Homo sapiens: one gene and its partners. The protein of the gene in region 3 interacts with the protein of the main gene of each other region in a pairwise test. Each region holds a gene or a part of one and is shown on either strand. Other genes may lie near its edges. The genes, in order: CTCF, BEND2, ZMYM6 and POU2F1.

What was found.
Region 1: the proteins of ZMYM6 (region 3) and CTCF interact in binary tests that used the Homo sapiens proteins (3 or more experiments, as listed by UniProt).
Region 2: the proteins of ZMYM6 (region 3) and BEND2 interact in binary tests that used the Homo sapiens proteins (3 or more experiments, as listed by UniProt).
Region 4: the proteins of ZMYM6 (region 3) and POU2F1 interact in binary tests that used the Homo sapiens proteins (3 or more experiments, as listed by UniProt).

The regions. Positions count from the first base shown.
Region 1 is NC_000016.10:67,621,526-67,628,525, forward strand, and holds part of CTCF (transcriptional repressor CTCF), read left to right. Parts: coding exon 1-66; intron 67-5,029; coding exon 5,030-5,190; intron 5,191-6,844; coding exon 6,845-7,000.
Region 2 is NC_000023.11:18,196,851-18,203,886, reverse strand, and holds part of BEND2 (BEN domain-containing protein 2), read left to right. Parts: coding exon 1-386; intron 387-1,946; coding exon 1,947-2,072; intron 2,073-7,036.
Region 3 is NC_000001.11:35,028,910-35,036,492, reverse strand, and holds the start of ZMYM6 (zinc finger MYM-type protein 6), read left to right. Parts: upstream 1-4,547; 5' UTR 4,548-4,678; intron 4,679-5,779; 5' UTR 5,780-5,853; coding exon 5,854-5,946; intron 5,947-7,583. UniProt on the Homo sapiens protein: Plays a role in the regulation of cell morphology and cytoskeletal organization.
Region 4 is NC_000001.11:167,223,866-167,230,901, forward strand, and holds part of POU2F1 (POU domain, class 2, transcription factor 1), read left to right. Parts: intron 1-7,036. UniProt on the Homo sapiens protein: Transcription factor that binds to the octamer motif (5'-ATTTGCAT-3') and activates the promoters of the genes for some small nuclear RNAs (snRNA) and of genes such as those for histone H2B and immunoglobulins.

The DNA of each region.
Region 1 (7,000 bases), on a different chromosome or scaffold from region 3:
CAGAAAATGTGGCCAAATTTCACTGTCCCCACTGTGACACAGTCATAGCCCGAAAAAGTGATTTGGGTAAGTAGATTAACTAGTGAGAAGTGAAAAAAATATTTTGAAGGATTTATATTTCGAAATATGGGGATCAAAAATAACTTCACCTTCTGACTCTCATAACATTTTATGTATAGGAATGGCCTGTCACTTAGTTTAGTAAAAGCCATTGCTTAGCTGCTTTTTTTTTTTTTTTTTTTCTATTTCTTCCTTTTCTTACTGTAGTCAGGCCACAAGATTCTGTCCTGAGTAAAACTCATCTATAAATTAATGGGAGCTGTGATGGGAGGAGACAGAGTACACCTTTAATTAGTAGCCTTCCTTCCCCAAATAGGAAAGTAACATAGTGTGATTCAAACTCAGGTCATTCTATTGTATTTTTTTGAGAACGTCTGTACTTTCTCTAGGTAATGGGACTGTTTTATTGGTTTAGTGGTAACTGTATTTCTGTGCATAGTTAAACTAGAGTTTACATGCAGCCGGAGTTTATTAATAATATTTAGTGTAGGCCGGGCGCGGCAGCTCACACCTGTAATCCCAGCACTTTGGGAGGCCAACGCGGGTGGATCACGAGGTCAGGCGATCGAGACCATTCTGGCTAACATGGTGAAACCCTGTCTCTACTAAAAATACAAAAAATTAACTGGGCATGGTGGTGGGCGCCTGTAGTCCCAGCTACTCGGGAGGCTGAGGCAGGAGAATGGCGTGAACCTGGGAGGTGGAGCTTGCAGTGAGCAGAGATCACGCCACCGCACTCCAGCCTGGGTGACAGAGCGCGACTCTGTCTCAAAAAAAAAAAAGGTAACGAGTAAAAAGTGAGAGCCATCCTCTCCCTTACCTCATATCTACTCCCAATAATTAGCTCTCTTTAAGTTTAGTGGGATATCACCTCAGTTGATACAACTTGTAGTACCGTAAATACATAAATTCATGATCCCAAATGTAGCTGGGCCCTCACTGCTCCTAGCTGTTCCAGCTGTTTGTTCTTGTCAGGTGTGCTCCAGTTCTTTATGAGTGAGCGAATTCATTCCACAGTGTTTGGTGCTTATATAGAGTTGGGCAACCTACTCTTACTTTTTTTTTTTTTTTTTTTGAGATGGAGTTTTCCTCTCGTCACCCAGGCTGGAGTATGATGGCATGAACTCAGCTCACTGCCACCTGTGCCTCCCAGGTTCAAGTGATTCTCCTGCCTCAGCCTCCTGAGTAGCTGAGATTATAGGCGCATACCACCATGCCCGGCTAAATTTTTTTTTTTTTTTTTTTTTGTATTTTTTAGTAGAGATGGGGTTTCACCATGTTGGCCAGGCTGGTCTTGAACTCCTGACCTCAGGTGATCTGCCTACCTCGGCCTCCCAAAGTGCTGGGATTACAGACATGAGCCACCGCGCCCAGCCCTCACTTGCTTTTTTTTGTGACAAAGTTTTGCACTTGTCACCCAGGCCAGAGTGCAGTGGCCTGATCTCTGTTCACTGCAACCTCCGCCTCCTGGGTTCAAGCTCTTCTCCTGCCTCAGCCTCCCAAGTGGCTGGGACTACAGGTGCCCGCCCATGGCTAATTTTTGTATTTTTAGTAGAGACAGGGTTTCACCATGTTGGCCAGGCTGCTCTCGAACTCCTGACCTCAAGTGATCTGCCCTCATTGGCCTCCCAAAGTGTTGGGATTACAGGCGAGAGCTGCTACACCAGATCCCCTACTCCTATTTTCTTATAACCTCTAATTTTCCTTCTTTTTTCTCTCCCCTCTTGGTCTCAGTAAATGACTTCTCTTCCTACTTAAAAAATAAAGACAAAGGGCCAGGCGCAGTGGCTCACGCCTGTAATCCCAGCACTTTGGGAGGCCAAGGTGGGTGGATCATTTGAGCTTAGGAGTTCCGGAGCAGCCTGGGCAACATGGCAAAACTCCATCTCTACCAAAAATACAAAACGGTTGTGGTGAGGTGCACCCTTGGTTCCAGCTACTCAGGAGGCTGTGGTGGGAGGATCACTTGAGCTTAAGAGGTAGAGGTTGCAACGAGCCGAGATCGTGCCACTGCACTCCAGCTTGGGTGACAGAGAGACCCCATCTCAAAAAAAAAAAAGAATCTTAGCCAGACACAGTGGCTCACACCTGTAGTTTCAGCTATTCAGGAGGATGGGCCAGGAGTTCTAGACCAACCTGTGTGATATAGCAAGACCCCGTCTCTTAAAATAAATAAAAATATAGCCGGGCACGGTGGCTCACGCCTCTAATCCCAGCACTTTGGGAGGCTGAGATGGGCGGATCACAAGGTCAGGAGATGAAGACCATCCTGGCTAACACAGTGAAACCCCATCTCTACTAAAAATACAAAAATTAGCCGGGTGTGGTGGCACATGCCTGTAGTCCCAGGTACTTGGGAGGCTGAGGCAGGAGAATTGCTTCAATCCGGGAGGGGGAGGTTGCAGTGAGCGGAGATCGCGCCACGGCACTCCAGCCTGGGCAAGAGAGTGAGACACTGTCTCAAAAAAAAAAAAAAAAATTATATATGTGTGTGTGTGTGTGTGTGTGTGTGTGTGTGTGTGTGTGTGTGTATGTGTGTGTATATATATGTGTGTGTGTGTATATATGTGTGTATATATATATGTATTCATATATATATGTATTTTTATATATATGTATGTCTTCACCCTCTAGGTTTAACTCTTCTCTCCTTCCCAGCCAGCCTTTATGAAGAGTTAACATCCCTCACAGTCTTCTCCCCCTCATCTTTCCCTCTTGTCTGGCTTATTCCCCATCACTCTGGTATAATGACTGTTGCTTAAGGTCATGAATGACCCCACTCTCTGAATGTAGTGAAGACTCCTTTCCACTCTTCTTCCTAAGAGATGACTTGATCTGTTAGCAGTGTTCTTCATCGTTGACAGTACCCTCTTCCTTTGAAACACTTTCTTCCCTTGGCCTCTGTGACACTAAATCCTGTTGGTTTTCTTCTTCCTCTTACTTCTTTAAACTTTCTCTTATTTTAACCTTTTTTTCTCTCACTGGCCTTAACTCCAAGGTTTTTGTTTTTGTTTTTGTTTTTTACTGGAGACTGTCTTGCTCTGTTGCCCAGGCTGGAGTTCGGTGGCTCAGTCTTGGCTCACTGCAGCATCGACCAGGCTCAAGGAATCCTCCCACCTCAGCCTCCCTGGTAGCTAGGACCACAGGCACATGCCACGATGACCAGCTAATTTTTTTTTTTAGCTTTTGGTAGAGACAGGGTTTCACTATGTTGCCCAGGCTGGTCTCGTACTCCTGGACTCAAGCAATCCACCCACCTCAGCCTCCCAATATGCTAGGATTACAGGTGTGAGCCACCACACCTGGCCCAACTCTGAGACTTCTTTGTGTGTATGTGTGCTTGTGTGCTTTGTGTGAGAGACGGAGTTTCACTCTGTCACCCAGGCTGGAGTAGAGTGGCGCGATCTCGGCTCACTGCAACCACCACTTCCCTGGTTTAAATGATTCTCCTTCCTCATTTTCCCGAGTAGCTGGGACCACAGGTGTACGCCACCATGCCTAGCTAATTTTTGTATTTTTCAGTAGAGACGGGTTTCACTATATGTTGGCCAGGCCAGGTCTCAAACTCCTGACCTCAGGTGATCCACCCACCTTTGCCTCCTAAAGTGCTGGGATTCTTTTTGAGATGGAGTCTTTGTCGCCCAGGCTAGAGTACAGTGCAGTAGCACAATCTTGGCTCACTGCAACCTCTGCCCCCCAGGTTCAAGCCATTTTCTTGCCTCAGCCTCCCGAGTAGCTGGGATTACAGGTTTACAGGCATACACCACCACGCCCAGCTAATTTTTGTACTTTTTAGTAGAGACAGAGTTTTGCCATGTTGGCCAGGCTGGTCTTGAACTCGTCACCTCAGGTGATCCACCTGCCATGGCCTCCCAAAGTGCTAGGATTACAGGCGTGAGCCACTGTGCCTGCCAACTCTTAGACTTCTCAAAGCATGACCCATTCTTTTTATTTTAATTCTACTTTTTGCCTTGGTGATCTTATCAGCTCCCATGGGCTCAAATTCTAACAACTCTTTGTGGCATTGGTGGTACAGTGATAAGCATAGCTGCTTTCAAATCCTAACAACTTGTACATTTATATTCCTACTCCAGATCTTTCTTTTGAGTTAGCCTTATATAACTGTGTATCCCTTGCCATCCCACCCCTGCTTTTATATCTCTGGCATTTCAAATTCAGCATGTCTAAAACTGAAGGTCTAAAACTTCTCTGTCCCCTATGCCCCCCCACCCCCCGACCCTGAAAATAACACATACAACTTGGTCTTAAGCCCTCTTCCACTATTCTTGTCTCAATAAATGACCCCAACAGCTACCTGGTTTTCCAGGCCTGATACCTACTTTATTCTTCACTCTCTACAGTCACTAAATCCTGTTGATTCAACTGCTTCCATCTCTCATCAGTTCTTCCCCTTCCATCCACACCCATTGTCATCACCCTTGTCCCAGCCACCATCTTCTCCCACCTATCCTGTTTGAACAATCTTAATTGTTCTCCCTGCACCTGTTACTCTGCCTTTTCATTCATTTTCTGTATAGCACCCAGAGTAATACTTAAGAATCAGGAGAAATGGGCTGGGCGCAGTGGCTCACACCTATAATTCCAGCATTTTGGGAGGCCGAGGCGGGCAGATCACGAGGTCAGGAGATTGAGACCATCCTGGCTAACATGATGAAACCCTGTCTCTACTAAAAATACAAAAATAAAAAATAAAAAAATTAGCCGGGCATGGTGGCGGGCGCCTGTAGTCCCAGCTACTCAGGAGGCTGAGGCGGGAGAATGGCATGAACCTGGGAAGTGGAGCTTGCAGTGAGCTGAGATTGCGCCACTGCACTCCAGCCTGGGTGACAGAGCAAGACTCCGTCTCAAAAAAAAAAAAAAAAAAAAAGAATCGAGAAATGTATTAGTAACTTGTTAAAATGCTTGTTTGTGTTTTCACATTACCCTGGGCTTTTTACTGTGCTTTCAGGTGTCCACTTGCGAAAGCAGCATTCCTATATTGAGCAAGGCAAGAAATGCCGTTACTGTGATGCTGTGTTTCATGAGCGCTATGCCCTCATCCAGCATCAGAAGTCACACAAGAATGAGAAGCGCTTTAAGTGTGACCAGTGTGATTACGCTTGTAGACAGGTAGGAACCTTCATTGAAAGTTGTTGGTGCTTTCTCGGTGTCTGGTGTTATCAGAGGGCATTTACATATCTAGTACAGTGGCTGTTTTTAAAGATAGTATTTTCAAACTGTGGATTATGAGGAATGTCACCAAAATCAAAGGTCATGCTCCTTGTCAATTGTGTCATCCCGGTGTCCAGATGATGTTTTATTCAGTCACAGCTTACCTCTTCCTTAAGCAGACATCTTTCTGAAAACTGTGGAAAGTAAGTCCAGGACTTGAGAGAGGGGAAGAATCTCATGCGGGGACATGACTGTTGGGAGGGAGCCAAAGAAGGAGCTCAGCAGGAATAAGCAGCTCTATCTGTGCTACAATTATGGAAGCAGTTGTGCACCACACTAAAAATACCTTTATCAAGCCGGGTGCAGTGGCTCACACCTGTAATCCTAGCACTTTGGGAGGCCGAGATAGGCAACAGAGAGAGACCCCATCTCTACAAAAAGAAAAAATTAGGGCCGGGCGCGGTGGCTCGAGCGCCTGTAATCCCAGCACTTTGGGAGGCTGAGGTGGGCGGATCACTTGAGGTCAGGAGCTTGAGAGCAGCCTGGCCAACACGGTGAAACCCCGCCTCTACTAAAAATACAAAAATTAGCCGGGCATGGTGATAGACGCCTGTAATCCCAGCTACTCTGGAAGCTGAGGCAGGAGAATCGCTTGAACCTGGGGCGGAGGTTGCATTGAGCCGCGATTGCGCCACTGCGCTCCAGCCTGGGTGGCAGAGCGAGACTCTGTCTCCAAAAGAAAAAGAAAAAATTAGCTGGGGCCAGGCACGGTGACTCACACCTGTAATCCCAGCACTTTGGGAAGCCAAGGCAGGCAGATCATTTGAGGTTGGGAGTTCAAGACCAGCCTGGCCAACCTGGTGAAATCCCATCTCTACTAAAAAAAAAAAACAAAAAAACACGAAGGTCGGCCGGGCGCGGTGGCTCACGCCTGTAATCCCAGCACTTTGGGAGGCCGAGGCAGGTGGATCACAAGGTCAGGAGATCAAGACCATCCTAGCTAACACAGTGAAACCCCGTCTGTACAAAAAATCAGCTGGGCGTGGTGGTGGGTGCCTGTAGTCCCAGCTACTCCGGAGGCTGAGGCAGGTGAATGGCATGAACCCAGTGAGCCGAGATTGCGCCACTGCACTCCAGCCTGGGCGACAGAGTGAGACTCCATCTCAAAAAAAAAAAAAAAAAAAAAAGTCAGCTGGGTGTGGTGGCAGGCACCTGTAATCGCAGCTACTCAAGAGGCTGAGGCAGGAGAATTGCTTGAATCCGGGAGGTGGAGGTTGCAGCGAGCCAAGATCGCGCCACTGCACTCCATCCTGGGCGATAGAGCGAGACTCCGTCTCAAAAAAAAAACAAAAAAAATTAGCCAGGCATGGTGGCTCATACCTATGGTCCCATTTTGAAGCTGCAGTAAGCCATGATCACACCACTGCTCTCCAGACTTTGCAACAGAGCAAGACCCTGTCTCTAAATATATAGCTTTATCATCTCAACAAGCCGTGTGGAGTCTAGACCTAGCTTGGGTGAGAAATACCTGTTGGCCACATGCATGCAGGTGGCAGCTGGGGCAGTAGCCCCATGAGCAGGCTCTGAGGCCTTTCCCCCTATGCCGTTTCAGGAGAGGCACATGATCATGCACAAGCGCACCCACACCGGGGAGAAGCCTTACGCCTGCAGCCACTGCGATAAGACCTTCCGCCAGAAGCAGCTTCTCGACATGCACTTCAAGCGCTATCACGACCCCAACTTCGTCCCTGCGGCTTTTGTCTGTTCT
Region 2 (7,036 bases), on a different chromosome or scaffold from region 3:
AAGGCAGGAAACCCATGCCTGGGCCAGCCCTGCTGTAACATCTCTTGAGTCAGCAGCATGTCATGAACTGCAGGAAGCAGACCTCAGTGAGAGTTTATCATATCCCAGAATTGTCTCCTCAAGTTCATTACAGCAGTATGTCGCACAAGGTGGCTCATTTCCTTGTTTCGGTATGCCATGGAACTTTATCAGTGGAGGTGCTGAAAGTACCAATGCTGTCATCTCATTTGCCAATGCTACTACAGCAGTACCTATGGCAGTTCTGTCACGAAGAGAATCCAGTCTGGCAAATAACCCTGGTGTGGTGAATTACTCTGCTCTACCAGAAAATGAAAATGTGGGCCCAGGTAGAGCCTTGTCATCTTTCTGCTTCCATCCCAATTTGGGTGAGTTTGAAATGACACATATTACAGATAGCATTCTTCAATCTAGATTTTAAAACACCCTTCATGCAAATTAGTGTTAGTTATTTTTTAAATTAAAAGTTTTATCTTGAAGCCATTATAGATTCATATGTAGTTGTAAGAAATAATACAGAGAGATACCCTTTCCCCAATTTTCCCCAGTGGTAACATCTCATAAGACTGTAGTTTGTATTCATTTGTGTGTCTGACTTTCGGCTTTTTTTTTTAAAACAATTTTATCAGATGAGAAAGTTTGTATGTTCCTACCATAGTCAAGATACAGAACCGTTCTATCACCAGAAAGTTTGCTTGTCTTGCCTTTCTATAACCAAACCCATCCTCCTTTTCCTTCCCCCACTTACCTATTCCTAACCTTTGGCAAGTGTGATCTCTTCTCCATCTCTATAATTTTGTCACTTCAATATTGTTATATAATTGGATGCATATAGTATGTAACCTTTTGGTACTGGCTTTTTTTTACTCAACATAATCCCCTGGAGACTCAACCAAGTTGTGTGTTTCAGTAGTTCCTTTATTGCCAAGTACTATTCCATGGTATAGGTGTGCCATGGTTTAACCATTCATCTATTGAAGGAAATTATTTTTCCAGTTTTTGACTATTAGTAGTAAGGCTGCTATGAAAATTCATATACAAGTTTTTGTGTAAATGGAAGTTTTCATTTCTCTGACATGATTACCCAAGAGTGCAACTGCTGGTTATATATTAATTGCATGTTTAGGTTTTTTTAAAAAAACAAATCTTTATTGAGATATTAATGTCTTGGTCTGTTTGTGTTACTATAACAAAATACCATAGACTGGGTGATTGAAAAAGAACAGAAATGTAGTTTCTCACAGCTCCAGAGGCTGGGAAGTTCAAAAGCAAGGTGCCAGCCGGTTTGTGTGGTGAGGGCTGCATCCTCTGCAAGAGAGGAGCACTGTGTCCTCACATGGCAGAAGGTAGAAGGACAAGATTTCAAAATGCCGTGTGAAGCCTCTTTTATAAGGGCCTCCATCCCATTCATGAGGGAGGAGCCCTCATAGCTTAATCATCTTAAAGGTCCCATTTCTTAATACGATCACATTGGCAACACCTGAATTTTGGAAAGGATACCTTCAAACCATAGTAATTGATAAGTAAAAAACTGCACATATTTATTATACCCAATGTAATGAGTTTGGACATATGCATGTTTAGTTTTATGAGAAACTGCCTAACTATTTTCCAGGGGCGCTGTATCATCTGACATTCTTGCCAGCTATATATGGGTGATCTACTTTCTCTAAATGCATATTTCTGCTCTTTCTTTTGTTCTTTCTTCCTGATGCTCCAAGATTCCTTCTTTCATCATCTTCTTTTTTTGATTGAGGAGTTTTCTTTAACCTTTCTTTAAGGGTAAGTCTGCTGGGGACAAATTCTTTTTGTTTTCCTTTGTGTGTGAATGTCTGTTTCTCTTTCTTTCTTGAAGGATAATTTTGCTTTGTATAGAATTTGTGGGTGAAGTTCTTGTATTACAGCTCTTGAAAACTTTTTATTTACAGAAATGCCAGAAAGACCAGCAAACAGCAGTAAAAACAGCACTGAGACAGCGAATTATCCAACTTTAATGGGAAATTACAATGGCCAAAATACTGCCTCTTTATCTGTCTTCATCCCTCCCTATTTTGGTGAGTTTGAAATGATACATAATGCTGGGCGTGGTGGCTCACACTTGTAATCCCAGCACTTTGGGAGGGTGAGGCGGGTGCATCACCTGACATCAGAAGTTTGAGACCAGCCTGACCAACATGGTGAAAACCCGTCTCTACTAAAAATACAAAAAATTAGCCGGGTGTGGTGGCGGGCACCTGTAATCCCAGCTACTCCGGAGGCCGAGGCAGGAGAATCACTTGAACCCAGAGGCAGAGGTTGCAGTGAGCTGGGATCATGCCACTTAACTCCAGCCTGGGCAACAAGAGCGAAACTCCATCTCAAAATAAATAAATACATAAATACATAAAAAAGAAATGATACATATTGCAAATAGCATTATTTAACCTTGATCCACCAGTTTTTTTTTTTTTGTTTTTTTTTTTTTTTTTTTTTGAGATGGAGTTTTGCTCTTGTTGCCCAGGCTGGAGTACAATGGTGCGATCTCGGCTCACTGCAACCTCCGCCTCCTGGGTTCAAGTGATTCTCCTACCTCAGCCTCCCAAGTAGCTGGGATTATAGGCATGCACCACCACGCCTGGCTAATTTTTTTGTATTTTTAGTAGAGACGAGGTTTCTCCATGTTGGTCAGGCTGGTCTCCAACTCTCAACCTCGGGTGATCTGTCCGCCTCTGCCTCCCAAAGTGCTGGGATTATAGGCGTGAGCCACTGCGCCCAGCCTGATTCACCAGTATTTTTAATGTCAGCTAGTGTGACTCTTTTCAAACTAAACTTTTCGGTTTGAGATAATTTTAGATTCACACACAGTTGTAAGAAATAATGCAGAGAACTGTTTATGCTTTAGCCATTTCCCCCAAAGGATGACATCTTTAAAACTATAGTAAAATATCACATCCAAGGTAGTGGCATTGATACACTCCACAGATCTTACTGAGATGTTCCCAGGTTTACTTGTAATTAATTTGTGTGTGTGTATTTAGTTCTTTGCAGTTTTATCACAAGTAGTTTTAATGTCTACCTCCAGTGAAGACATAGAACGTTTCTATCACTGCAATGATGCCTCATCTTGCCCTTTGATAATCACATTCACTTTCCTCATGTCATCCTTTCCTTCCAACCTGCCCCATCCCTAACACCTGGTAACTACTGATCTGTTCTCTGTTTATAATTTTGTCACTTCAAGAATGTTATATTAAGGGAATGTTACAGTATGTAATTTTGGGGTATTGGTGTTTTTCACTCAGTATAGTTATCTGAAAACTCACCCAGCTTGTTGCATGTATCAAGAGTTCCCTCCTTTCTTTTCTTCTTTTTTTTTTTTTTTTTTTTGAGACAGAGTCTTACTCTGTTGCCCAGGCTGGAATGCAGTGGCGCGATCTTGGCTTACTGCAACTTCTGCCTCCCGGGTTCAAGCAATTCTCATGCCTCAGCCTCCTGAATAGCTAGGATTACAAGTGTGTGCCACCACGCCCAGCTAATTTTTGTATTTTTGGTAGAGACAGGGTTTCACCATGTTGGCCAGGCTGGTCTCAAACTCCTGACCTCAGGTGGCCTGCCTGCCACGGCCTCCCAAAGTGCTGAGACTACAGGCATGAGCCACCACACCCAGCCTACCCTCCTTTTTATTTTTGATTTATATTTCATAGTATGGCTATGCCACAGTTTGTTTAGCCATTCACCCATTGAAAAGGCATCAAATTGTTTTTTTTTCCAGTTTTTGGATATTAGGAGTGAAGCCACTATGAACAGTCATGAACAGGTTTTTCTGTAAATATAAGTTTTCATTTCTCTGTCATGAATGCCAAGAGTGTAATTGCTGAGCCTTATGGTACTAGCATGTTTAGTTTTATAAGAAACTGCCAAATAGTTTTCCAGAGAGTCTGTATTATCTTCCATTTCCACCAGCAATGCATGAGTGATCCAGTTTCTCCACATTCATATTTCTGTTATTTCTATTGTTCTTCCTTCTGGATGCTCTATATTTTCTTTTTTCATCCATTCCTTTCTGTTTGAATACTTTTCTTCAGCCTTTCTTTCAGGTTTCTTTAGTGTTCCTGCATGTGAAAATGTCTTTATTTTCCTTATGTTCTTCAAGGAACATAGTTTTGCTGGGCATAGAATTTGTGGCTGAGAGTTTATTTTCCATCAATATCCTGAATGCAAGTCAGTGGTAGCTCTTTAAAAACAAAAAAAAAAACTAGGCTTTTTATTTTGAGATAATTTTGAATTCACATGTAATTGTAAGAAATTGTACAGAGATCCCATTTATACTTTACCCATTTTCCTCAATGATAACATCTTAAAGAACTATATCCTGCATCCAGGATATTGGCATTGATTAAATCCACATCTCTGTGTGTGTATTTAGTTCTATGAAATTTAATCATGAGTCAGTTTACATGTCCACTATTAGTTACAATACAGAACATTTCCATCATCACTACAAAGATCCTTCATATTGTTCTTTTAAAACCATAGCCACCTCCCCCAATCTCCCTTGCCTCTCATCTTGCCCTGTCTTAACTACTGATAGTCAGCAATCTCACTTTGTTTGCCAGAATTTCATTATTTGAGTATCATTACTTAAATGCAACTAAATGCTGTGTAACCTTTTTATTTATTTATTATTATTATACTTTAAGTTTTAGGGTACATGTGCACAATGTGCAGGTTAGTTACATATGTATACATGTGCCATGCTGGTGTGCTGCACCCATTAACTCGTCATTTAGCATTAGGTATATCTCCTGATGCTATCCCTCCCCCCTCCCCCCACCCCACAACAGTCCCCAGAGTGTGATGTTCCCCTTCCTGTGTCCATGTGTTCTCATTGTTCAATTCCCATCTATGAGTGAGAACATCCGGCGTTTGGTTTTTTGTCCTTGTGATAGTTTACTGAGAATGATGATTTCCAATTTCATCCATGTCCCTACAAAGGACATGAACTCATCATTTTTTATGGCTGCATAGTATTCCATGGTGTATATGTGCCACATTTTCTTAATCCAGTCTATCATTGTTGGACATTTGGGTTGGTTCCAAGTCTTTGCTATTGTGAATAGTGCCACGATAAACATAAGTGTGCATGTGTCTTTATAGCAGCATGATTTATAGTCCTTTGGGTATATACCCAGTAATGGGATGGCTGGGTCAAATGGTATTTCTAGTTCTAAATCCCTGAGGAATCGCCACCCTGACTTCCACAAGGGTTGAACTAGTTTCCAGTCCCACCACCAGTGTAAAAGTGTTTATTTCTCCACATCCTCTCCAGCACCTGTTGTTTCCTGACTTTTTAATGATTGCCATTCTAACTGGTGTGAGATGGTATCTCATTGTGGTTTTGATTTGCATTTCTCTGATGGCCAGTGATGATGAGCATTTTTTCATGTTGTCTGTTGGCTGCATAAATGTCTTCTTTTGAGAAGTGTCTGTTCATATCCTTTGCCTACTTTTTGATGGGGTTGTTTGTTTTTTTCTTGTAAATTTGTTTGAGTTCATTGTAGATTCTGGATATTAGCCCTTTGTCAGATGAGTAGGTTGCGAAAATTTTCTCCCATTCTGTAGGTTGCCTGTTCACTCTGATGGTAGTTTCTTTTGCTGTGCAGAAGCTCTTTAGTTTGATTAGATCCCATTTGTCAATTTTGTCTTTTGTTGCCATTGCTTTTGGTGTTTTAGACATGAAGTCCTTGCCCATGCCTATGTCCTGAATGGTAATGCCTAGGTTTTCTTCTAGGGTTTTTATGGTTTTAGGTCTAACGTTTAAGTCTTTACGCCATCTTGAATTAATTTTTGTATAAGGTGTAAGGAAGGGATCCAGTTTCAGCTTTCTACATATGGCTAGCCAGTTTTCCCAGCACCATTTGTTAAATAGGGAATCCTTTCCCCATTTCTTGTTTTTGTCAGGGGTTTCTGCTTTTGCTTCTATCTCATGAGAGTTATTCACTATCACAAGAATAGCATGGGAAAGACTGGCCCCCATGATTCAGTTACCTCCCCCTAGGTCCCTCCCACAACATGCGGGAATTCTGGGAGATACAATTCAAGTTGAGATTTGGGTGGGGACACAGCCAAACCATATCATTACTCAAGGAGAATTTCACTATGTATAAATTCACGGTTGAGAGTTCTTAAGCACTTGAAAAATGTTCTTTCTGTACGTATGCCGAGAATTGCAGAAACCAGGCTGGAAAACAACCCTCAGACAATGAATTACCCAATTTCTTCGGGAAATGGCAGCGGCCCATGTTCTTCCTCTTCATCTGCCGGCCTCACACCTAATTTTGGTGAATTTCAGATGCTGTATTACAAGTGACACTATTGAATCCGGATCGATCAACATCCTTAATGCAAGCTAGTAGTAGCTCGTTTTTGAAATTAAACTTTTATTTTTATTTTTTTGAGGCGGAGTCTCACTCTGTCACCCAGGCTGGAGTGCAGTGGTGTGGTCTTGGCTCACTGCAACCTCTGCCTCCTGGGTTCAAGAGATTCTCCTGCCTCAGCCTCCCAAGTAGCTGGAACTATAGGGCATGCCACCATGCCTGGCTAATTTTTGTATTTTTAGTAGGGACGGGGTTTCACCATGTTGGCCAGGCTGGTCTCAAACGCCTGACCTTAGGTGATCTACCCTCCTTGGCCTCCCAAAGTGCTGGGATTATAGGCGTGAGCCACCGTGCCCAGCCATTTTTATTTTGAAATAATTTTAGATTCACATGTATTTGTAAGAAATAATAGAAATGATCCCCTTTATGCTTTACCCTTTTCTACCAGCAATATCATCTTACAAAACTATAGTAAATTAACACAACCAGGATATTGACATTGATACAATACACAGATATAACTGAGATAGCCCCAGTTTTACTTATAATAATCTGTGGGTGTATCTGTATTTCTTTCTGTGCAAGTTTTCTTCCACGAATAGGTTTGATTCTCACCACCACAGTCAAGACATAGAACATTTCCATCACCACCAGGCTGCCTC
Region 3 (7,583 bases):
ATATTTAACCTTCCACAGGTAACTACAAACATCTTAAAGTAAATATAATATTCAATAATTTTATGTTGAAAGCAACATAACAGGAAGATATAGATGCCCAATATCACCATTTCCATTCAACATATTACTACAGGTTTTAGCCACTGCAATAGGCAAGAAAAAGAAATAAGTTATATAATTGGAAAGAAATAAAATGGTCATTATTCTCTACATAGCTGGAAACAGAAAGTAAGAAAAATGGCTAGACTATTAGAATTAATTAGTTTAATTAATAATTCAGCAAGGGTGCTAGCTTCAAGACCAACATACAAAAATAATTGTATTTCTATATTTACACTGAAAACAATTAGAAAATAAAAATTTACATTTAAAATGACATGAAATATTAAATGCCTAGAATAAATCTAACAAAGAGGTGTGCAATATCTACACTTAAAAACTATAAAGCATCAAGATAAATTACAGACACCAAAATAAATGGAGGAATATATCATTTTTATGGATTGAAAGATTCAACCCCACAGAATGCTGTTATTAGTTTCCTAAGGCTGCTTTAATAAAGTACCACAAACTAGGTTTAAAAAAAACAAACAGAATTTATATCACCATTCTTGGGGCTAGAAGTCTAAAATTAAAGATCGGTAGGGTCATGCTTTCTCTGAAACCTATATGGGAGAATCTTTCCTTGCCTCTCTTAGCTTTTGGTGTTATCAACAATCCTTAGCATTCCTTGGCTTGCAACTGCAGTACTTCAATCTCTGTTTCCATCATCGCATGGGGTTCTCCTCCAATGTGTATGTCTTCATATCTTCTCCTCTCTTAAGGACACCAGTCATAATGGATGAAGCGCCCACCTTCCTTCAGTGTGGCCTCATCTTAACTAATTACATCTGCAACAATCCTATATGACTAAATAAGGTCCCATTCTAAGGGTTAGGACTTCAACATATCTTTTTAGGTGACACAATTCAACATAATGAATAACAAATACCAATTCTCCAAAACAGGCATACCACTTCAGTATAATACTAAACAAAATCCCAATGGATTCTAAAATTTGTAAGGAAAGTTTTGTCACAACTGACAAGCTGATTCAAAAATTTACATGAAGATGCAAAGGACCAAGGAAAGCCAAGATAATCTTGAAGGACATAATAGGAGGGAGGACTTTTTCTATCATATACTAAGATTTATTATAAAGCTATTACAGAAATTAAGACAGTATGGTATTTCCACAAGGAGAAACAAAAGGAACAGCCTTCATAGTCCTGAAATAAACCCACACATATATAGACAACTGATACATGACAAAGGTGTCAATGCAGAACAGTGGGGAAAAGGACAGTCTTTTTAAAAAATAGTGCTTAATCCATGCAAAATTCACATGGAAAGGTTGAAATCTGACTTACCTTACACTATACACATAACCCAACCACAGATGGATTATAAAACTAAATGTGAAAGACTAATAACACTTCTAGAAATTTTCTTCATTTGGTAGGAAAATATTTCTTAAGAGAATACAATAAGCACTAAGCACAAAGGGTTTTTTTGTTGTTGTTGTTTGTTTGTTTTTTGGATGGAGTCTTGCTCTGTCACCCAGGCTGGAGTGCAGTGGCATGACCTCAGCTCATTGCAACCTTCGCTTCCTGGTTCACGTGATTCTCCTGCTTCAGCCTCCCGAGCAGCTGGGACTATAAGTGCACACCACCATACCCGGCTAATTTTTTTTTTTTTTCCTGAGGCAGAGTCTTGCTCTGCCACCCAGGCTGCAGTGCAGTGGTGCGATCTTGGCTCACTGCAACCCCTGCCTCTGGGGTTCAAGTGATTCCCCTGCCTCAGCCTCCCTAGTAGCTAGGATTACAGGTGCCCACCATGCCCAGCTAATTTTTGTATTTTTAGTAGAGACAGGGTTTCCTCATGTTGGCCAGGCTGGTCTCAAACCCCTGGCCTCAAGAGTTCCGCCCGCCTCAGCCTCCCAAAGTGCTGCTATTATAGGCATGAGCCACTGTACCCGGCCACAAAGGTCTTTTAAGTTCATCAAAAGACACCAATAACAGAGTGAAAAGGCAAGCTACCGAGTGGGAGAAGATATTTGCAATATATACAGTAGTCCCTCCCTTATCCATGAGGATATGTTCGAAGATGTTCCACAGATGCCTGAAACCTCCAGTAGTATCAAACCCTATATATGCTATGTTTTTTCCTATACATACATACCTATGATAAAGTTTAATTTATAAATCAGGCACAGAAAGAGACTAACAACTAACAATAGAACAATTATAACAATAGACTTTAATGAAAGTTGTTTAAAACTTATGAATTATTTGTTACTGGAATTTTCCATTTAATATTTTCAGACCGTGGTTGAGTGTGGGTAACTACGACTTCAGAAAGCAAAACCGTGGATGAGGGGGGCTAGTGTATATTCAAAAAAGACTTATCTTAGTGTATTCCTGATTGCCAAAAGAAAATGCCACAGACTGTGTAATTTATAAATAGTAGAAATTTATTTCTCACAGTTCTGGAGGTTGGCAAGTCCAAGATCAAGGCACTGGCAGATTTGTTGTCTTGGAATTACTCTCTAATTCCAAGATGAAACTTTGTTGTTGTCCTCTTGCTGGGAGGAACATTGTTATCATACAGTGAGGGGTTAAAAGGGCAAAAGGAATGAATCTTTGTGAAGGGCATGAATGCCCTCTTTTGTAAGGGCATGAATCCCATTCATGAGGATGGAGTCCTCATAGCCTAACCCCTCCCAAAGGCTCCACTTCTTATACCATCGCCTTAATGTTTAAGTTCCAATATATGAATTTTGAAGGGACACATACATTCAAACCATAGCAGGATTCATATCTAAAATATATGCCCATAAGAAAATGTCAATCCAATACAAAAATGAGCAAGAGACTTGAACAGGCACTTATGGGGGATATCCAGATACCCAAGGAACAAGAAAATGGGCTCATCCTCATTAATAATCTGGGAAATGCAAATTAAAACCACAGTGAGATACCACTATGCCCCCATCAGAATGGTTATAATTAAAAAGATATGCAGCAGTAATTATTGGCAAGGATGTTGGGAAACTGAAACTCTCATACATGGCTGAAGGGAGTATAAACTGAAACCACCATTTTCTAAAATTGCCTGAGATTATCTACCTAAATTTTACATATACATAACAAGCAATTTCACTTTTAGGTATGAACCCAACAGAAATGTGTGCATATGTATCACTGTTAAATAAAACTTGTAGGCCATTGTTTCGGGCTAAGCTCCTGCAGTAGGTCTCAATGAACCAGACTAAAAATCAAAATGGAGTCACTCACACTGAGGTTCCATGTCATCAAATGGAAACTACGTTGTTATTTGAAGTTCTGAAAAGTCAGGAAAAAGAGATAATAAGAGTCTAATTTCCCCTGAGTGCCAGTTTCAATTAGCATAATAATGAAATTTCTTCTGCTTTAATCGTTACCAAAAAAAGATAAACTGAAGTTACCTGATGTTAACCAATCAGTTATTTCTCTATTGTTTTGTTTCTTGGTTCTGCTTTACAAGGAAATTAACTTATTTATTTATTTTTTGGAAAGTTACTTTGAAATGAACCAATCTGTTTTTTGTTCTTTACTTCTGCTTTCTCCAGCCCTTCTCTGTCTATAAAACCTACCTCTTCTGCTCAGCTCATTGGAACACTTGTTCTATTTTATGGAATGAAGTGCTGCCAGATTCTAGAATCACAAATAAAGCTAATTGAGATATTTAAATTAAATTTGTTGTAATTTTGTCTTTTAACATCACCAATGACAAGAATGTTCACAGAAGCATTATTCCTAATAGCCACAAATTGGAAACAACTCAAATGTCCATCAGTAGTAGATGATTAAAATTGTATCATATTCATAAAATAGAATACTATACAGCAGTCAAAATGAATGAACAGTCACAAATCATACACGTATCTGTGAAACAATGTTGAATTAAAAAAACCAAATCTCAATTTTGAGCAAGTTTTTTCATTTATATCTCAAGAGATTAAAAAATTATACCTCTTAGGGTTAAATGGTGAGGATTAAGTGGGATGGTGCATGTGAAGTGCTCAGCAAGCCAAGTATTATTTAATATCATGCTCTCTCAGTAGGCCACCTTTCAGGAAATGGGCACTAAAGGATGCTACAGATTAGCTAGGTGTGGTGGCACGTGCCTGTAAGCCCAGCTACTCGGGAGGCTGAGGCAGGAGAATCGCTTCAACCCAGGAGGCGGAGGTTGCAGTTAGCCGAGATTGTGCCACTGCACCCCAGCCTGGGCAACACAGTGATACTCTGTCTCCAAAAAAAAAAAAAAAAAAAAAAAAAAAAAAAAAAAAAAAAAAGAATGCTATAGAGCACTTACAGCGCCTTCTAACGCCATCTCCACCTTTTCACTATTGAGCCTCGGTCTCTTTAAGAAGTGAACCATAATTGAGGAAAGAGGAATGCTGGGAAGTTCTACTCAGCTCAGGTCCGGAGCCTGACGGGAAAAGAGGGCGGAGACCAAGGCTGCGCAGGCGTGGTTGGCCGGTCGTTGCGTTGGGATGGATCAGGCGGAATTCCAGAAGAGAAAATAATCCCTGTCTAGATGCAGAGGACTTGGTTCCTATTCCAGTGCTCCTCCGGTAGCAGGGAGGCGACAGAAGGTGGGTGCGGCCGCAGTGGTAGTGGGCGGGACGGCGGGGCGGAGGCCACACCACGTGACGAGGCGTTGCGGCGGGGGCGGTGCCAGGTGGGCTACGCGGCTGGGGCGGCTGCGGATATCGCCTTAGGGACGCGTTGACATTCACTGGCTAGTCCACCGCTCTCAGTCGGAGACCACATTGCCTCGTTAGTCCTCAATGATGGGAGTGGGAATTCTTGGTGGGAAGGAGAATTTCGGAAAGCGTGCGGTTCTCAGAGGAGGGATGAGCGCCCGTAGATATTTTGTGGCGAGTGCGCAAAAGTTCTCATTTCTTCTTTGGAACAGGCTTTTCAACCAGTTGTCCGTTTCCATCCCGGACTATTCGGATAAAGACAACTTTGAAGAGCTTTTTGTTTTAGGTTTAATTCGTCCCGTTTAGTTCTTTGACTTTTAGGGGAAGGGAATTTACTGAATGGCCAATTGAGTTTCTTTTCTACAGGAAGGCGATTGTGAAGCGGGGCTCTGAGGGGCTTGATGCCCCCCACCCCTCACACGGAGACCTTGAAAGAGGCAGGTGACTCACTTTCAGTAAGGGCGTTCCTGTTGTTCGCCTGCGATGGATGGCATCTTGAGCTCACATCTAGCGTTAGGCCGAGAAATGGGGCCCTTAGGGAGGCTTCCAGTGAAGGTTGAGTTATAGGTCAGGGCCGGGAGGTTGTTGTGCCCCTCTTTGAGAAATAAAAGCCGACGTGGGCCTCTAAGTACTGATTCTTATGGGGTCAGAAACTATTTCTTGAGTCCGTTCTTCTCAGAGTTTATTACTTCCTCCCACGTCTTGGTCTGCTGGTCTAATTCCCTTCAATAACCTTCAACATAGGAAAAAACCAGAGTGTGTTGTGTGTCTTTAAAGATATTAGAGAAGTGGGAGCTGTTGCCCCAAAACTGTTTTCTTATGTAGCTACTGAAGGAACAGAAAGCAGGAAGAAAGAAAAAAGTTAGTTGTGGCCCCAGAAGAGTTGTTTTTCAAATGCCGAGCCGTGAAGCCTCATGCACTCAACACAAAGTTTTTCTTTCATATAGATAAGCCTGAAGAAAAAAGAATAAGCCTGAGTATGTATTTTAGGTGTCCAACTATCCATTACCAAGAAGAAATCTATTCGTTTGAGCCTGAGACACTCTTTGAGGTAAAAAATTAGAATGAAAGAACCTTTGGATGGTGAATGTGGCAAAGCAGTGGTACCACAGCAGGAGCTTCTGGACAAAATTAAAGAAGAACCAGACAATGCTCAAGTAAGCATTTCATCTTCATTTAAAAATTTAAAAAAATTCCTTCTTTTCCATCTGGTCAACTGAAAAATTTTAGTTAAACGGCTTCTGGTTTGTAAGTTTAAAATAACCCAAACTGAGACAGGCTCTCGCTGTCGCTGAGGGTGTAGTGCAGTGGTGCGATCTCCTTAGCTCACTGCAGCCTCCACCTCCCAGGCTCAAGTGATCTTCCCACCTCAGCCTCCTGTGTAGCTGGGACCACAGGGCACACACCAACATGCTCAACTATTTTTTTGTATTTTTGGTAGAGACGGGGTTTGGCCATGTTTCCCAGGCTGGTCTCAAACTCCTGAGCTCAAGCAATCCACCCACCTTGGCCTCCCAAAGTTCTGGGATTACAGGCATGAGCCACCATTCCTGGCTGGTTTTTTGCTCTTTGAATGAAAGCTATAACTACATGATTTTTTTGTGTGTGGAAGGAAAGTAATATATTTACCATTTTTCCATACTTGTCACTTAAAAAAAATTCTCTTGTATCTGGTAGTACTTTCCTTTATTCTGTTAAGAATTTGTGGTCTGTGCTAGTCTCTGGGGATCCAGGATTGAGCAAAGTCAGCTTAGTCCCTTCCCTTGTAGAGCTTATATGTTAGTAGAGGAGGCAGAGATTACAAAAGTATTGGTCAAGTAATATATATAATTACAAACTATGACAAGTACTCTGGAAGAAAAGCCTAAAATGGGGAATCTGACCTAGTTTTGGTTGTGGTCTGCCTGGGGATGGCTAGGGAAGGCCTCTCTAAGGGAAGGATGTGTAAGCTGAATTATGAAGAATGAATTGATTAGGCAAAGGGTATGGAGAAGAGTATTACAGACAGAGGGAACTGTGAATAGGAAAGCCCTGAGTTGGAAAGATGCATGGTTCTTTTTAAGACCTGCAGGAACAGTGAGCCTGGAACAGAAAAGGTATGAAAATGGTGATGATGATAATGATTAAAACAACAACAATAAAAATAGCTGGCATTAGTATATCAGTATGTAGTATATATTATATCATAATCATATGTGACATTATTAACTTAATATTTATATATGCTTAAGAGTGTGTCAGGCACCATTCTTACCACCATATTATTATCCCCATTTTACAGATGAGGAAACCAAAGCTCAAAAAAGCCAAATAGTTTACCACAGATCACAGTTAGTAGTAAATGACAAAGACTGGATTCAAATCCAGGTGGTCAGACTCCAGAACTTGTGCTATTCTGCTTCTCTATGATAAGGCTGTATATATAGTTTAAGGCTGGATTATGTAGGACGTAGCAGACCTTGTTATAAATTTTGGTTTTTATCCTAAGAGCAGTAGATAGCCATTATAGGGTTTTTTGTTTTTGTTTTGAGATGGAGTTTTGCTGCAATGTTGTAATCTTGGTGGCTCACTGCAACTTTCACATCCCGGGTTCAAGTGATTCTCCTGCCTCAGCCTCCCCAGTAGCTGGGATTATAGGCGCCTGCCACCACGCCTGGCTAATTTTTTGTATTTTTAGTAGAGACGGGGTTTCACCATGTTGGCTAGGCTGGTTTCAAACTCCTGACCTCAGGTGATCCACCCACCTCAGCCTCCCAAAGTGCTAGGATTACAGGCGTGAGCCACCACACCTGGC
Region 4 (7,036 bases), about 130 Mb from region 3:
CCCAAGATGTGGTCAAACTGATGATGTCATTGGACAGAGGACAAGGTGCAGTTAATTTGATTTATTGTCCTGAGGTGAAGTGTAGCAGTGAAGCCTTCTCATAGGGAAACCATTTATTTCGGGTCAATTTCCTTTATAGCTGCAATTTAATCACTACTGAGGCCGTAGATATTTTATACAAAATGATAAAATGTACATTGGATTTTACAAGCAAAATTTCGCTGTTACAGTTTTTGTAATACAGAAAAGGATGGATGTTGTTAACTGGCCTTATATTTTGGTTCACTTTTAATGCTATTGTAAAAATTCATTTCCTCAAAATTCTCAAATGGAGTATTTGGGTTTTAGATAGATAGTCATAGAAGTGACCCATATAAATGTTTGTTGTGATCCCCCAGACTTTTATAAGAAACTGTGTTTCTTAATCAGAGCATGGCTTAGGCTAATGGAGAGACCATTTGCCTTAGAATCCATTTCAGTGAATAAAGCAGAGTTGAGAATGAGGGCTGTGTATTCTTTAAGGTGGAAATGATAATGTTGAAAATAAGGTAGAATACTCACAGGAAAGCATGTGCTTTTAAAACAGATTTTTTAAAAAAAATTCAGAATTCTTTTTGGATTTATCTTAGTCTGGACAAGTTTGTTCATTTTGTTTTGATTAGTGATTTTAAAATTGTTCCATTGCAACAGTGATTGCACTTAGAATTTTTGACATATTAATAGATTTTCTTGTAAGACATTTCTCATATTTTTAATTATTAGTTTATTTTAAGGTGATGATTAAAATTCCCTGAGAATGTGATAAAATTGCTTTATTTCTAACCTGAATTTGTGATCCAATTTTGATAGAGTATTTTAGGTTACTTTTGAACCCACATGAGTTTATAACCTGCCTGTCTCCTTTTGCATCTGTCAAGTAGTTTCCTGCGTATTTCTAGGAAATCCATTGTCACTGTCTTCTTTTTTTTTTTTTTTTTTTTCCAGACAGAGTCTTGCTCTGTCTCCCAGGCTGGAGTGCGTTGGTGCGATCTCGGCTCACTGCAACCTCTGCCTCGTGGGTTCCAGTGATTCTCCTGCCTCAGCCTCCTTAGTAGCTGGGACTACAGGCATGCGCCATGACGCCCGGCTAATTTTTGTATTTTTTGTAGAGGCGGGGTTTCACCGTGTTGGCCAGGCTGGTCTCGAACTCCTGACCTCAAGGGATCCACCCGCCTCGGCTTTCCAAAGTGCTGGATTACAGGCGTGAGCCACCATGCCCAGCCCGTTGTCACTTTCTTAACTCTCCCACCTATTAATTACAATGATACTTTTGAATCAAGGTCTTGAAAATTCATGTGACAGCTGACCAACTGTTTTTGATTTCTAAAGGACTGTTCTGCTTCCAAACCATTACCGTAAAAGCAATTTTTAACCTCTTCCCTCAAATTAGTTTGTAATTCCTTTCATTTTGTCATTGTCAAAAATCCCAGTAGACAAGGAAAAAACAAACCGTAGCTATTATTCAGGTTCAAATGAATTCAGGTGTAGTGTTCTGCCATATTTTAAATTTACTATTCTCTACATCAATAGGTAGTATAAAGCAGTGTAAATAAAATATGTTTCATTGCTGCCTAGTTTGAAGTAATTGTCAATCTGCCATTCATCTGGTTAGTGGATTTTGCAATAAGTTCAGGGCTCAAAATGTTACGTTGCTCTTCTCAAGCCACCAAAGATGTTTAATAGACCCTTGAATATCTTAGGCAGGTGGTTCTGAAATAACAGAAGTGGAAATTTGAATGTTATCTTTAAGTATTTTCTATTAAAAATTGAAATATTTGACCTGCTTCTTGAATCTGTATTGCTTCATCTTGAATTTATTTGTGTTTTTTAAGTTGGTCACTCATTTTCATGAATGTTTCCTTTGTACTTGGAAGACTGTAATATTATGTAGTAGTGATTGCCTTGTTGTTATCGGTTATTTTTGTTTTGTTTTTTAATTTTGAAACCCCATAGTTGTAATCTTTGCATATTAGTCTTTCAAGCACCATTAAAAATAATGTTGTGTGACTCATTAATTTGCCTTTATATAATTGTGTTAATTACACAGTTTTTGTGATTAGTAAAGACTTGCTATGAAGCCTGATTTTAAGCAGGAATGTGTTTTTCCTAATGAAAGTGATTGCATTTGAATTTAGAACTATTCAGGTAATTTGCGTTTAGGGAACAGACCAAGTCACAAACAAAACATGCCCCCTTTTGGTTATCCATGTTCTTGTTTCTGATCCCTCCTTAAATGCTAAATGCCTGAGCAAATGTACTTACTATTTCTTGGGCGTTAGAGTTGAAAGTTGTTGATTTGATTCAGTGACATATCTGCTTTGAATTTCTGTACCCTTTCTGCATGAATTTTTTCCTTTTCCTTTTTTTGGGGTAACTTTGAGTCACCATTTTGCTTACTTCTTACTGTGTTGCTTAAAGGATGTAAATATCCTTTTGAGTGGTTGAAAGGGATAATAATTAAGGTTCACAGAGAATAGCAGTTTCCTTATGCATCTTTCGCTGGACATTTTTGTGCATTATTGACATTTCATAAGTAAAGAGAATTGAATAACTGTAGATTTTAATTCTTCTTAGGAATAAATTGGTTTGTTTTGTACCGAAGTATTTCTGTGTTCTAAACAGGTGATGAGCTCTTATAAACTGTTTCAGCAGTAATAACAATGGAAACAAAAATAGCCTGAGTAGAGCTATTGCCTGACTTACTTGATCCGTTTACAGTATGTTTAGAATTTGGAATATGAGAATTGTCTTGAGTTTCAGAAGTTCTGATTTGAAGATGCTCCTTGCATACAGTGCATGTGGTTATGGGGTTCTGTGTGTTTTTACTATGGGGTGTGAATTTTTTGAGCATTGGTATCTTTGTATACTCAGTGACTAATAGAGCTCTTTTGTTTTTGGGTTTTATTTATTTATTTATTTATTTCCAATTAAGCAAGCACTCAAGATTTCAGTGTTGCCTACATTTGCTGACAGGACTAGTAATTGAGCAAAAGAAGAATCAGCAAACCTCTAGATTTATCAGATTATCTTTTATTCATTTATTTTCTCTTATTTTTAATTTTTTTTAAGAGATGGGGTCTTGCTATGTTGCCTAGGCTAGTCTAAAACTCCTGGGCTTAAGCAGTCCTACTGTGGCCTCCCCAAGTGCTGGGACTACAGGCATGAGCTACCACACCTGGCCCAGATTTCTTTTAAACTGCTGGAACTCCTGGACATTTATCCGGAGAGGATACATTATACTAACTTTTTTTTAACAGCCAATGTTCACATTCCACAAAGCTAAGTGTTTGTAGTAGCTTTACTAAGTCTTCAATATTGAAAGTCATAGCAAGTGCAGTTTATCACATTATTTATTTCATAATTCTTTGTAACTTTATGCTTTTTATGTTGGAATATAGAAATGGTATATGAAATTAAATCAATAATAATAATTATTATGGCAGGTTTCCCCCCCTCTGTTGAACTTTCTCTTTGCAATAGAAGATATAAACAGGAATGGCTGGAAAATGAACAATATGCTGTGTGTTAAACGACTCATTTGTGCTTAAACATATGATTACCTTAATGGAGTTGCACTGATACCTTAAAGGGAATATATTTTTATATGGAAAAGTGACTTAGGTGTTTTCTTGTTTTAGTACACTTATTTTAGTGGTCTGCTTAATGAAAAATACAGCCTTTTTTGGCTGATTCATACTGCAGCAAGCAATATTATAATTAATGTTTTAAAGTAGTTACCATCCTAGTCTATAAAAGGTATCTGCTATGTACCTGGTCCTATGCCTGTAGTCTTTGGGAATAACAAGGAAATATGACTGCTGCGGAGGAGTTGGTATGTTTACTTAAGCAGGAAAAATTGAAAAACAGTGTATATAATTACATATTAAAATATGTAACAGATAATGAAGATTGGAGAATAGATCAGAGTGTGTCCAAGTTTGAAAGAGCCAGAGCATCCTAGAATATATTATAGCTGGAAGGTAATTTAGATATAATCTTTGCTAAAGGTTTTGCTTCACAGATGAGGAAATATTTTCACAATGGTTTAGTGACTTGCTCACAGTCACTTAACTATTCAGTAACAGATAAGAACACAAGACTTCTAACTTTCTCCCACCTCCCAGTCTCTCCTCCTGCCCCATTGCTGTCAGTCAGAGAAGGCTTTATGTAGAAGGCGAGACTTTTAAACCGAGCTTTAAAGGGCAAAAAGAATTTAGAGGAATGGGAATACAGAGAAGGCCATTGAAGGGGAGATTGTGTTCAACATTGTGATGTATAGGTAAAGAATGAGGAAGCATTTGTTCTATCTGCAGGAAAGCTGTTGGAGGATTTTGAAATAGGGACTGATGTGATAAAAATGGTGTGTTAGGAGTAATGTGGTGTGCAGGATGGTTTGAAATAGGAAGGGAGAGATTAGATCCATAGAAACCAGTGTATAGAGGTATTTGGTTTATTAACTAATTACTGTAGGTGCTACTAGAGATACAAACATAATTTAAAAATTACTTGACCTCAAGAGACTTCCAGTCTAATTTATGAAATAGATAAGTCGTGATAAAGGTGTTGAGGATATTGTCCAATTACATTACATGGAATAAGGACGTTTGGGAGAAATTCTTACCTGGCCTTTACAGTAGAAACTATTTGTTTTTAGTCTTATGGACACTGAATTGTCTAATTGACTTAGTTTCCTTTTCAAATCAAACTACAGTTTGATTTGGTCAAATTTAGGTCAGATTATTAACCTGAGAAGCACATGCATAGGCAATTACGTTTGCATTTCTTAGCCTGATTAGTAGATCAATTTTTTGTCCATGCATTTGTTTTGTATTTCTTGTATTGCTTCCATCTTTAAACTCTTTTTATCTTGTTTTATGTGGGCCACCTTACATCCTTTCTGGAGCAAGGCAGGTATAAATAATATTACCATAACCATGGCACAGTGATAATGTCTGTATTTTTATAGTACTTTAAAATTTATAGCCACATTCTCATTTTCATTACCTCAGTTAGTCCTTTCAGGCAAGCGTTACTATACCCATTTTATAGTCGAGTAAAATAAAACTTAGATTAAGTGACTTTCTCAAGGTCCTGTGTTTTTATAAGCATTAAGTGTGGGTAATAGCAAGACTTCCAGCTTAGTTGTTATTTAGGCTGTGTATTAAGGCACTTTGGGGCTCTATTGTGGAGAGCTCTGAATCCTTTGTGTTGGTGTAAGAGTTTGGATTTTATTTGCTAGGCAGTAGGAAGTCACTGAATTTTTTTTTTTTAATTTTTTTTTGTTATGGACAGTGCCATGATCAGAGCCCTTAAAGTTTAGCAGCTAATTAGATGCAAAGAGATTATCAAGGTTTTGAGTTTAGGTTATCCAGAAAAGAGCATTACCATAAGCAGATGTAGGGATGTTGGGAAAAGGAGCCATTTGGGGAGTAAGTCAGTGAATTCACTTTGACATGTCATTTGAGACATGTTTGGGTGGGTCTTATTGGGTTGTAGATTCCTTGTGAAAATTGAAAATTTTTTAGTGAATTAAATGTTTGATAAACATTAATACTAGGGTTGAAATTTATGCTCATGCCACTGTGCGTGTGGACTGAGTATTGAATCTGAACGTTGTAAATTCTAGATATCTCATTTTGGCTTTGGCACTGTCTTCTAAGGTTATTTCCTTCAACAATACGATGGTGATAATACCAGTGTTAGAGGGATGCTGTGGGGAGTATCAAATTGATAGCAGAAGCATTTTTAAAGTAACTCTGTAATAGTTTTTCTTACATGAGCACAGGAGTAAAATCAGGAATTTTATTACTTGTGCTGCTGTAGAGAAGCAGAAGCTTTAGCAGCCGATGGATTCTGTGGGGCACCTGACTGTAGGTTGTTCATTTTTTGGTGCAGCCAGCATCTTAGGAGGAATGGACACTCCTAATACTCTTCTGAAAACTTTATACAGTGGAGGTGTTGCATTGTAGCAAATACAACTTACCTTGATTTCAGGGCATTCTGTTATCTAGCCCCTACCCTTGCCTATGCATTATTATCTTTACTACTTCCTTAAATAGCATGACTCAACAATTCCATCAAGGAAGTTCCCTTATTGTCCATTTCTACCACAAATACAGCATATTATCAGATTTTAATTTTTAAAGAAATTTCCCTAAAATTTGAAGATCTATCTTGGGAGGATGGCTATAATTTATCCTGAGACTTACCTGAGCCTTTCTCCCATTACCATCCTTGCAACACCAATCCCAGTTTGAGACACATGACCTGAATGTGTACCCAGTGTTTTGGTCAAGCCAGTGTGTTTGGGACGTTGTGTGAGAACCTTTACTCACACTTTTTCCTCCATTGGAAGGCCATGGTGTATGGTATGGTAGAGTGAAAAAAGGTACTGGGGGGTTCAGAGACCTGGCTTCTCTGTCACTAATTAGCTTAGTAACTTTAGGACAAGTTACTTCACCATGGATTTTTTTTTTAATTGCATTTGTAAAATAAGGGATTTCAAACTTTTAAAAGCCTTTGGTGTTCTTTTTTAAAGGCAAAAGTGGAGCTGTTCTGATTAAAATTGGATATTGGAGCAAGAAAAGCATTTTCCTCCTCCTTTCCACAGTAGCTTTTGAGGCACTTTCACAGGGTCCTTAGGACTTCTGCTGGTCATGACTTGAAAACTTTTGTCCTTATTTATCTTAAGGGACCTGTCTGTCCATTTCTTTATCTCCACAAATAGCCATCTGTCAAATCTGAGCTCCTGTCATACTTTCTCTGAAATTAGCACTTAATTTGTGTTCAGTTACCCAATTCAGCACTTCATTATACACAGTCCTATTTTCTTCTCTAATTGATTATGTAAGTAAATCTTGTCCTAAGAGCCTTGAGTGCAGGAACATACTGGTAGGGACAGAGTAGGCCTAGACATTTAACAAATAATGAATGCTTGGTTGATGGACTTAGTGGTTCTCAATCTTTGTCACCATGGGGTGACCCATGGAACTTTTTC